Linked DNA regions of Homo sapiens: region 1 is linked to region 2. Evidence: fine-mapped expression QTL. A gene starts in region 2. The other region holds a variant in brackets. All regions are shown on one strand. Distances are between the middles of the regions. Region 1 overlaps ASB2 (ankyrin repeat and SOCS box containing 2). Region 2 holds the start of ASB2 (ankyrin repeat and SOCS box containing 2).

What was found.
Region 1: its variant is fine-mapped to the expression of ASB2 in cerebellar hemisphere (GTEx, PIP above 0.99). The same link has a PIP of 0.9 or more in cerebellum.

What each region holds. Positions count from the first base shown.
Region 1 is chr14:93,954,114-93,958,113 of GRCh38, reverse strand. It overlaps ASB2 (ankyrin repeat and SOCS box containing 2), which reads left to right. Exons shown (of 10, transcript NM_001202429.2): 3 at 1,244-1,348; 4 at 3,631-3,797. Among named protein-coding and RNA genes, the nearest start is that of MIR4506, 7.8 kb to the right of the region's middle. RefSeq lists enhancers at 1,717-2,421, 2,422-3,128, 3,239-4,000. The variant T/A (reference allele first, on the strand shown) is at 1,837.
Region 2 is chr14:93,974,367-93,978,366 of GRCh38, reverse strand. It overlaps ASB2 (ankyrin repeat and SOCS box containing 2), which reads left to right and starts at 1,797. Exons shown (of 10, transcript NM_001202429.2): 1 at 1,797-1,933. LOC107984663 (a long non-coding RNA gene) reads left to right here. Exons shown (of 4, transcript XR_001750861.2): 4 at 1-942. RefSeq lists an enhancer at 2,745-3,316.

The DNA of each region.
Region 1 (4,000 bases), 20 kb after region 2:
CATGAAGCAGAGGGGTGAGCAGGTTCCCCTCCTCCTGCCACCCTTGCTCCTCTCTACCAGGCTCTGGCCTTGCTGGGGTGTACCCACAGAATCTGTAGGCTCTGGCCTAGCCAGAAAGAGTGTGGGTGCTTCTCAGGGTCATAATTACCCCATGCCCCACAGGGTGTGAGTCACTGGTAGCAGAGTCCTCCCCAATCCCCCCCAGAAGAGTGTGGTGAAAGGCCCGGGCCACTGGGGTGTCGAGAGTGCCAGGCCTGACCTACTGGGGGTGGTGTCAGTAGGGGCCATATACCCTGTTCTCACGACAACCCCAGGCCAACTCAGATTTGTGGAGCGGCCATCCCACCTCCTTCCGGCTCTTCCACCCTCACAGGAGCCTGGTGGGTCGGGAAAACTGAGGCCTAGAGAGGCAAAATGATGATAAAATGAAGAGTGAGTACATGTGGAACACCCTCTGTGCCTCACACTCCACTAAGCTCCTCACACCATTCACTTACTCAGGCCTCACCGGCCCTCGAGCACAGGCTGTTTTCATGCCACCTTGCAGGAGCGGGGACTAAGGCACAGAAAAGGTCAACCTGTCTCACGTCACACAGCCAAGGAGTGCCAGAGCCCAGATGTGAACCTGTGTCTGTCTGACTGCAGCCCTGGTTCCGACGCCCTTCCTCATGCATCCTATAATAACACTATAGAGGTTACTATAGTGTCTGCTCCTACCCCTGGGACAAGATCCCCTAATGAGCTGGCAGGTGGGCGTGGGGGGCACAGGTACAGCTTGGCTTCTCAGCTTTGCTCCCCTATCCTCTGCTTTGCCATGAATCTCTCATCCAGCCCCGCAGGGATCTGCCTGGCCAGCAGTGAGCCTGAGCCCCTTTCATCCTGGGACCTGCCGACCACGGCTCACATCCTCCTGGGTGAAGAATGTCACCTTGCTTCCTATCTGCCTCTTTCGTGGTTGGCTGGGGAGGGGGACCGGGGGGTGGGGTGAGGTTAACCTCATTGTTGTCTTATATGGTCATTTAAATCTCCCAGGGCTTCCTCCAAGGGCCAAAAATAATCCGGAGACACAGCAGCTGTGTCCAGCACACAGAGGACCCGGCCATCTGCTTTGGTTCAGAGCCCTGTGTCTGTCAGTCAGTCTCTCCCTGGCTCTCCCTCCATCCTCATTCCTGCCTGAAGCCATGACCCGCTTCTCCTATGCAGAGTACTTTTCCCTCTTTCACTCCTGCTCTGCACCCTCCAGGTCCACTGCACCTCCTGAGAGTTCGCCGGCCCGGGCCCCAATGGGCTTGTTCCAAGGGGTCATGCAGAAATACAGCAGCAGCTTGTTCAAGACCTCCCAGCTGGCGTAAGTGACTCCTGTCTGGCCCCAGGACCATCCAAGTTCACTCCGCTAACTGGGATGGCAGGGAGGGTGGGAAGCAGGCCCACAGCCCCCAGGAGGGCAGAGGGCACTATGGAGGCACCTGCCAGGCACGCTCCTTCTAGGGGTGCCCCCCTGGGGCCCCACTGCTCCTGCTGAGATGGGCTTGGTGGCCACAGACTTCAGTCCTCAAGGAACTTCCAGCCAGGCATGCTGGTGATCCCCCCCTCAGATGCCCCCAGCATGGGACCTGAGTGCTGGAGGAGCCCCATGGGGCTCTGAAACTGGGGACCCAGCACGAGGGAAATTGGGGAGATGGCCTTAGAACCCCAGAGGCCCAGGAGAGCTTGGAGTTGAACTTGATGAGTTGGCTGCACCCTTCTGTTTGTCCCAGTCTCACTTTCCCCCATGCCATCGCTGTGGGTACATCCAAAATGCCCACACCCACAGCCTTTGTTTTGTTTATTTGCCCT[T/A]ATTTGTGAAGTGCCAGGTGCTAAAATCCAGAAATAATCTAAGCTGCAGGGGCTCTGTTTGCCTGGCACCAGGGGGCAGGGCTAATGCGCTCCTTAGAAAATAATTCTGCCTCCCTCCCCTCTCTGTACCCCTGGAATAGTGACCCCGGAAGCAGCCAAAAGCAAAAGAGGGACCCTATCACTGGAACTGCATTTCCTCACTCAGTTACGTTGTAGAGAAGGGAGGAGGCAATTGGCCAATATTTTCTTTCTCCTTCCCAGCCTTTTTCAAATCCTGTCGCCCTCCACTTCCTTGGTGTGGTGGGTGTGTGGAGTGGTTGACAATCTGGAAAAGGGAGACCCAGAGCTGGTCTCAGCTACTGCCACCTCCTGCATGACTGCCTGAGAGTCGCTGTCCCCTCTGAGTCTCCCTTCTCTGCAGGACACGGCTGGAGAGGGCAACGTGACCTCTAGGGTCCCGTCCAGCTTACTACTCTGATGGCCTGACACCCCCAGAACCCTCCCCCACTCATAGGGCGGGGACTTTGCCTGAGGTCATGGAGAAGCTGTGAATATGTGGGCTGAGGGCTCCAGGGTCCTTGCATCACAGCTGGAGAGACCCAAGCTGGGCGGCAGGTCCTGAAAGTGTTCTCACGACACTGCACCACGCCCTGCTCGCCAAGGCCACGAGAAAAGCCAGCCCTCCTCCCTTCCACTTCAGCTGGGGTCCCTTTGGAGACACTCCAGGAAAAGGGGGGCACATACCCCCACTGGGCTTTTCCTGATGCTGACAGGGGCTGCTCTGGCTGTTCCTAAGTGGAACTCGTCAAGGTGGCAGTGACGGTGCTGATGGGGACCTCAGGACTTATCTGATCAGTTTCCCATCGTCCTTGCTGGGTCTGTTGCTTCACCGGCATCTGTGCTCTGACACCATTAATAACCACAGAGTCTGAGAGTCAGGAGGAAGTGCTGCTCACGCTGGAGGAAGTGGCTGGGAGAGTGCAGGGGCTGGTGGCAGAGACCGCCCAGAGCCCATCCTAGCCCAACATGGCGTGGGTGTCCTGGGAATGAGGCCTGCCTCCAGCCTCACCTTCTCCATCTGGGAAATGGGACTATTGATGCAGAAGCCTCCCCAAAAGTGGATCTGAGAGGCATAGACATCGTGGTTCTCACGGACTCTCCAAGGATGAGGTAGGGAGCTCAGTGAATGAATGAAGGAAGGAAGGAAGCAATGAATGAACAAAGGGACTTTAACAAGCCAAGCAAGGAACGGCTTCACTTTAGCCCTCAAATCTTTTTGACATTCAGAAGTTTTAAACTGTGAAGGCTTCAAATTTATTAATCCTTCCAGTATATATTTTTTTTCTGCAGCTGGATGTACTGGGAGTAGGAATAAGCGACAGGGCAAGGAGAGGAGTTGGAAGACCCCAGAGATATGCTCAGGGTTAAGAGGGGGCCCCCGAGATGGGCGTGCCTGGTAAATGCTAGAGTGCTATACTCAGGGAAAGCATTTAATTATCACAAGTGCCTCACATGTGGGTGGTTAGCCACCCTCTAGGAGGCTGGCATTGTGTGCCTGAATCCTCTTGGTAGAATTGGTTTTGGTATAACATTCCCGGCAGCCATGGAAAGCCACAGAGATGGAGGGATCCCCCAGTCCTCTTGCAGCCACTGGGCTGCAGGGGGCTGAGTGCTCATCCTGGAACCAGCAGGGACGAGGACCGAGTGACTCCACTGCCAGCACTCCTGAGAGAGAGGCCCCCTGGCCTGGCCTTGGCCTGACCTTGAGGACTGACCCACTCCTTCCTCTCACAGGCCTGCGGACCCCTTGATAAAGGCCATCAAGGATGGCGATGAAGAGGCCTTGAAGACCATGATCAAGGAAGGGAAGAATCTCGCAGAGCCCAACAAGGAGGGCTGGCTGCCGCTGCACGAGGCCGCATACTATGGCCAGGTGGGCTGCCTGAAAGTCCTGCAGCGAGGTGAGGGCTGGGCTCTGACGGTGGCAAGAGGTGGGAAAGGGACTAGGGGAAGGGCTGCCGCTCCTGGGGCTTCATGTTCTTTGCCCACAATCATCTTGGGAGAAGGGCAGGCAAGGCTGTCACTTTCATTTGTCAGTTAGTCATGGAGTTACGAGAGGGGAAATGAGTTGTCCCCACCCCCTGCTGCCACCTCTCCAGGCCTC
Region 2 (4,000 bases):
GTGGCAGCTGCAGGTGAAGGATCCACCTCCGAGAGGGTGTCTTCACCCCTCTGCCTGGTGCTAGATGCTCTGGGGGCCCTGGGTGTTGCTTGCTTGGACTTCCTCACAACATGGCAGCTACAAAGCATCTCATGACCTAGCCTTGGAAGTCTCAGGACATCATTTCCACTGCATTCTATTGTTAAGTCCATCACTAGGCCACCCCATATTCAAGGGGAGGGAAGGAATAGACACATCTTGGATGGAGTTTGGGGTGTGTATGTGTGTGTGTGTGTGTGCATGTGTGCATGCCCATGAGGCAGAGGGCAACCTAGGAGGGGCCTGGCCTGGCCACAGCCCACCTTCCAGGTCAGATTGGGAAGGGGCAGGTGGTGGGCAGGAAGTAGAGGAACCTGTGTTTTGCCTCCAGCAAGGAGCCCAGGAAAGCAGCCCGGCCTCGGGGAGCCGTCCCACAGAGACGTCTCTCGGGGAACATCCTACTGGGTAGCAGAGTCTCCAAAAAGTAAAAAGAATCTGACAGCCCCTTCTCTGCCCTTCTCCTACACTCCCTCCATAGCACATGGGTCTGGAAGGGGCTGAACTTGAGCTAACTTTGAGGGCCACCCAGCCACAGTGGCCTGGGAAGACTGACCCAGCTGGGGTGATGAGCAATTTGGCAGGTACCAGGGAAGCTGGGGGACTGCCTGGGGACCACTGGTGTCCTTCCCATCTTTAGCACCAGTCAGACCTCCAGAACCTTGACTCAACCCCGTGGCACCTTGTATACTGAGATGTATTTCCTTGTGGAATATTCGAAGTGCGTGTAAAGGCATCCTGAGGTTTCCTGAGTTTGAATCAGTGAGAAATCATGCTGTGGCCATCATAAATCCACATCCTCCAAGGGGAATGGGCCACTGAAACAAAAATGATTCTCCCCTTAGAGGAACAGACCAAGTCATGTTTCTGGACCCCTAACTCTGAGGCATGAGATGTGAACACACGGGTGGGAGAGTAGGTGCCTGGCCATGTCCTGTCACATCCCGGATGCTCAGTGCATGTGGCTGTGTATGTGTTGTCTTTGACATTTGACCTATTCCAGAAATGGGACGTTCTTCCCTAGACCAGGAGGAAGGGCTCTCTTCTGTTGTATATCTCTGCCCAGGGCTTGCCCGCATGCCTCTGTGTTTGTTTGTTGGCTCATTTGTACCCTGGCCCTTTGTATCCCCAGCCCCACCCCACAGTATCCAGCAGCCAGACACCTGCTATCCCCAAATGCTGCCACAAGCTCAGCACCAAACCTTGATTTCTCCAAAGCCCTTTTACGTCAACTCCTTCATCTCCTCTCTCCCCTTCTTCCCTTCTCTTTCACTCCATCCTCTTCCTTCCTGCTGTCTTGCCTTCCCTCCTTTGTTGCCTTTACTTCTCCTCTTCCCCTTTCTTCCTCCTCCCTTGCTCCTCACTCTTTGTCTCCCAACTATGCGTCTCCTCGTCCTCGTTCCCTGCCTCTGTCTCTGACCCACTGCATCTCTCTCCTGTCTGGCTCTCCCCTGGGTAGTTCCAGAAACATACCCATATATGGCCTCCATGTCAAGGATCACAAATGATGACATCACGTGAGGGCCAAAGCTCCGGGATCCTCTCTGAAGTGAGAGTCTGTATTCGATGCACCCGGAGGAACGGAAGGCAGGATTGCAGCTTCCTCAGTGCAACCTCCAAACAGGAAATCTGAGATGTATAACATCTTATAGTTTGGCTTGTCAACGTTGGTCATGCGGTGGCCCCAAAATAAACTCCCTGCTTCAAAGGACAGCGTTTCAGAACTGCCTGGCAGAGCAGCCAGAAGCTTGGGGCCAGGGCAGAAGGAAAACTCGGGGAGCATGTTCTGAATTAAGACACTTTCAAGAAAATCCTTTGTATTACCCCTGAATTGTACCCTTGTTTCAGAGCCTAACAGGTAATGCATGCTTTCAACTTTCTTATACAGATCTTGCAAAAGATTCTTTGGCTGGTGGGGATTTTCGGCTGCAGTACTTACTGGAAACCGCTTGTAGTCAAACTGTGATGTTGCTTTTCCCTCTCTCTCGTATTTTCTTGAGTTATACAGCACGCTGGTGACTTTCGTTTTGGATGCAATGAACAGAGACTCAGCAATTTGCATGTACTTACCCATTCTTCTGGAGGACTCTGGCTCAGAATATCACTCTGCTGTGCACTTCTAAAAATGGAAATGCAAAAGGACTTATCAATGATGCTATTGTTGGGTCTGTAGGTCTTGGGCGGTATCTGTGTCAGACAAGTGACTTTCAGAAATGCTTTCAGGCCAGGCGCACAGATAGAGGTTTTCATGAGTGGGAGTTAATTTAATGTAGCTGTTGCAGAGTGCCTAGGCATGCACGGTATTGTGGGAGACCATAGCAGCCAAGGTGCCATGTGCTCTGCTTTCAACTGTTTGGGGATTAGGAGAGGAAATGGAGGAATGTTATTTATGTGAGATCCAACAAAGCTGTGGAATGCAGGGATGCAAGAATACCATGCATGTGTGTGCACACGCATATGCATGACACATTTAAGGAGGCCATGGCCTTTGAAAGGATGGGTGGGATGCCTCAGGGTGGAAACAGAGACCTCCAGGTGGAGGAGCAGCTTGGGCAAAGGCAGGGAAGTCAAGGGACCTGGGGTGATGATGGAAAGTGAAATGTGGCTCTGGCAAAGGGTTCTGCATGTGAAAAATGGGGGTGAGGCTAGAAGGGGAGGCCAGAGGGAGAGGCACATCCTTCCAGGCCAAGCAAGAAGTTGGAACACTTTCTGAGAGTTTTTGAGCAGAGGACGGCATGCACATAGCCACATGCATTGAGCATCTGGGATATGAAGGGACACAGCCAGGCACCTACACTCCCACCCGTGTGTTCACATCTCAGGCCCCAGAGGTGGAGGCCCAGAAACATGACTTGGTTTCTGGTGCCTCTAGGTGGAGAATCATTTTCATTTCAGTGGCCCATTCCCCTTGGAGGATGTGAGATTTGGCTTCGGTGGCTCTTCGGGAAGCCAGGGGTATGCACTGGAATGAGGAGGCAAGGAGGCTGGTGACTCCTAGGGAGGGCAGGTAAATGAGGAAGGCCTGAAGCAGGGCAGAAGCTGAGCCCCTGCACAGGACAGGAATGCTCTTCTGAAGATAAGCTTGTTTCGTGAGGCGAGGGCTTGAGGGGGCTCAGAGGGACGCAGGCAGAGCCAGCTGGGGCCAGCACCCCCGCCACAGCCCTGACCTCTGCCTGGGCAGAAGCACCATGAGGCAGACAGTGGCAGATGCTCGAGGCACTTCCAAAACAGTTGGACGGGTCCTGACAGCTGGTGGCAGGCCCATGTGCTGCACAGCGTCCCCAAGAAGCTGGCAGCAGCTCCGCTGGGTGCCATGCTGGTTTGCATCATCTGTTCTTGCACAAACAGGCCGGGTCATGAGTGCCTTGTGGTGGCGGGGGTGGGGGACACTGTCTAACCCACGCACGGTGACCTCACAGTGAACAACAACACAGGCCATACCAGCAAGCCTTTGTTGAGCACTGGCCCAAGCTTGTGTGCAGATTTCTCTCACTGACTTCGGTCAAGGCTACCATGAGTTACAGGTGATCGTTACTCCCATTTTCAGGTCTGGAAACAGGTTATGAGAGCTTAAAAGTCTTGCTTAAGGCTGGACGGCTGCAAGTGTTGGAGTCAGGAATCTGACCTTTTGGTCTGCAAGGTCCACATTCAAAGCCACAGCGTCCTGTGGCCTCTCAAGGTACTGTGGCAGTGGTAAACAGGACCATCGTGCACCCAGGGGAAATGTCTCTGGCACACTCAAGGCATCATAAGGTGCCCGTATATTGTGGACAGGCTAGATCCAAAGAGCCTTCCCAAAGGAGGCACAAAAATATCTCTGGGCCTGCCCAGTGTCCTTCCATTTCTGCGCTGCAGAGGATCAGGCTGCCCACAGGAGCCAGCTGTCACAGGAGTGGCTTGTGTCTGTGGTTCTCTTTCCTTAGCA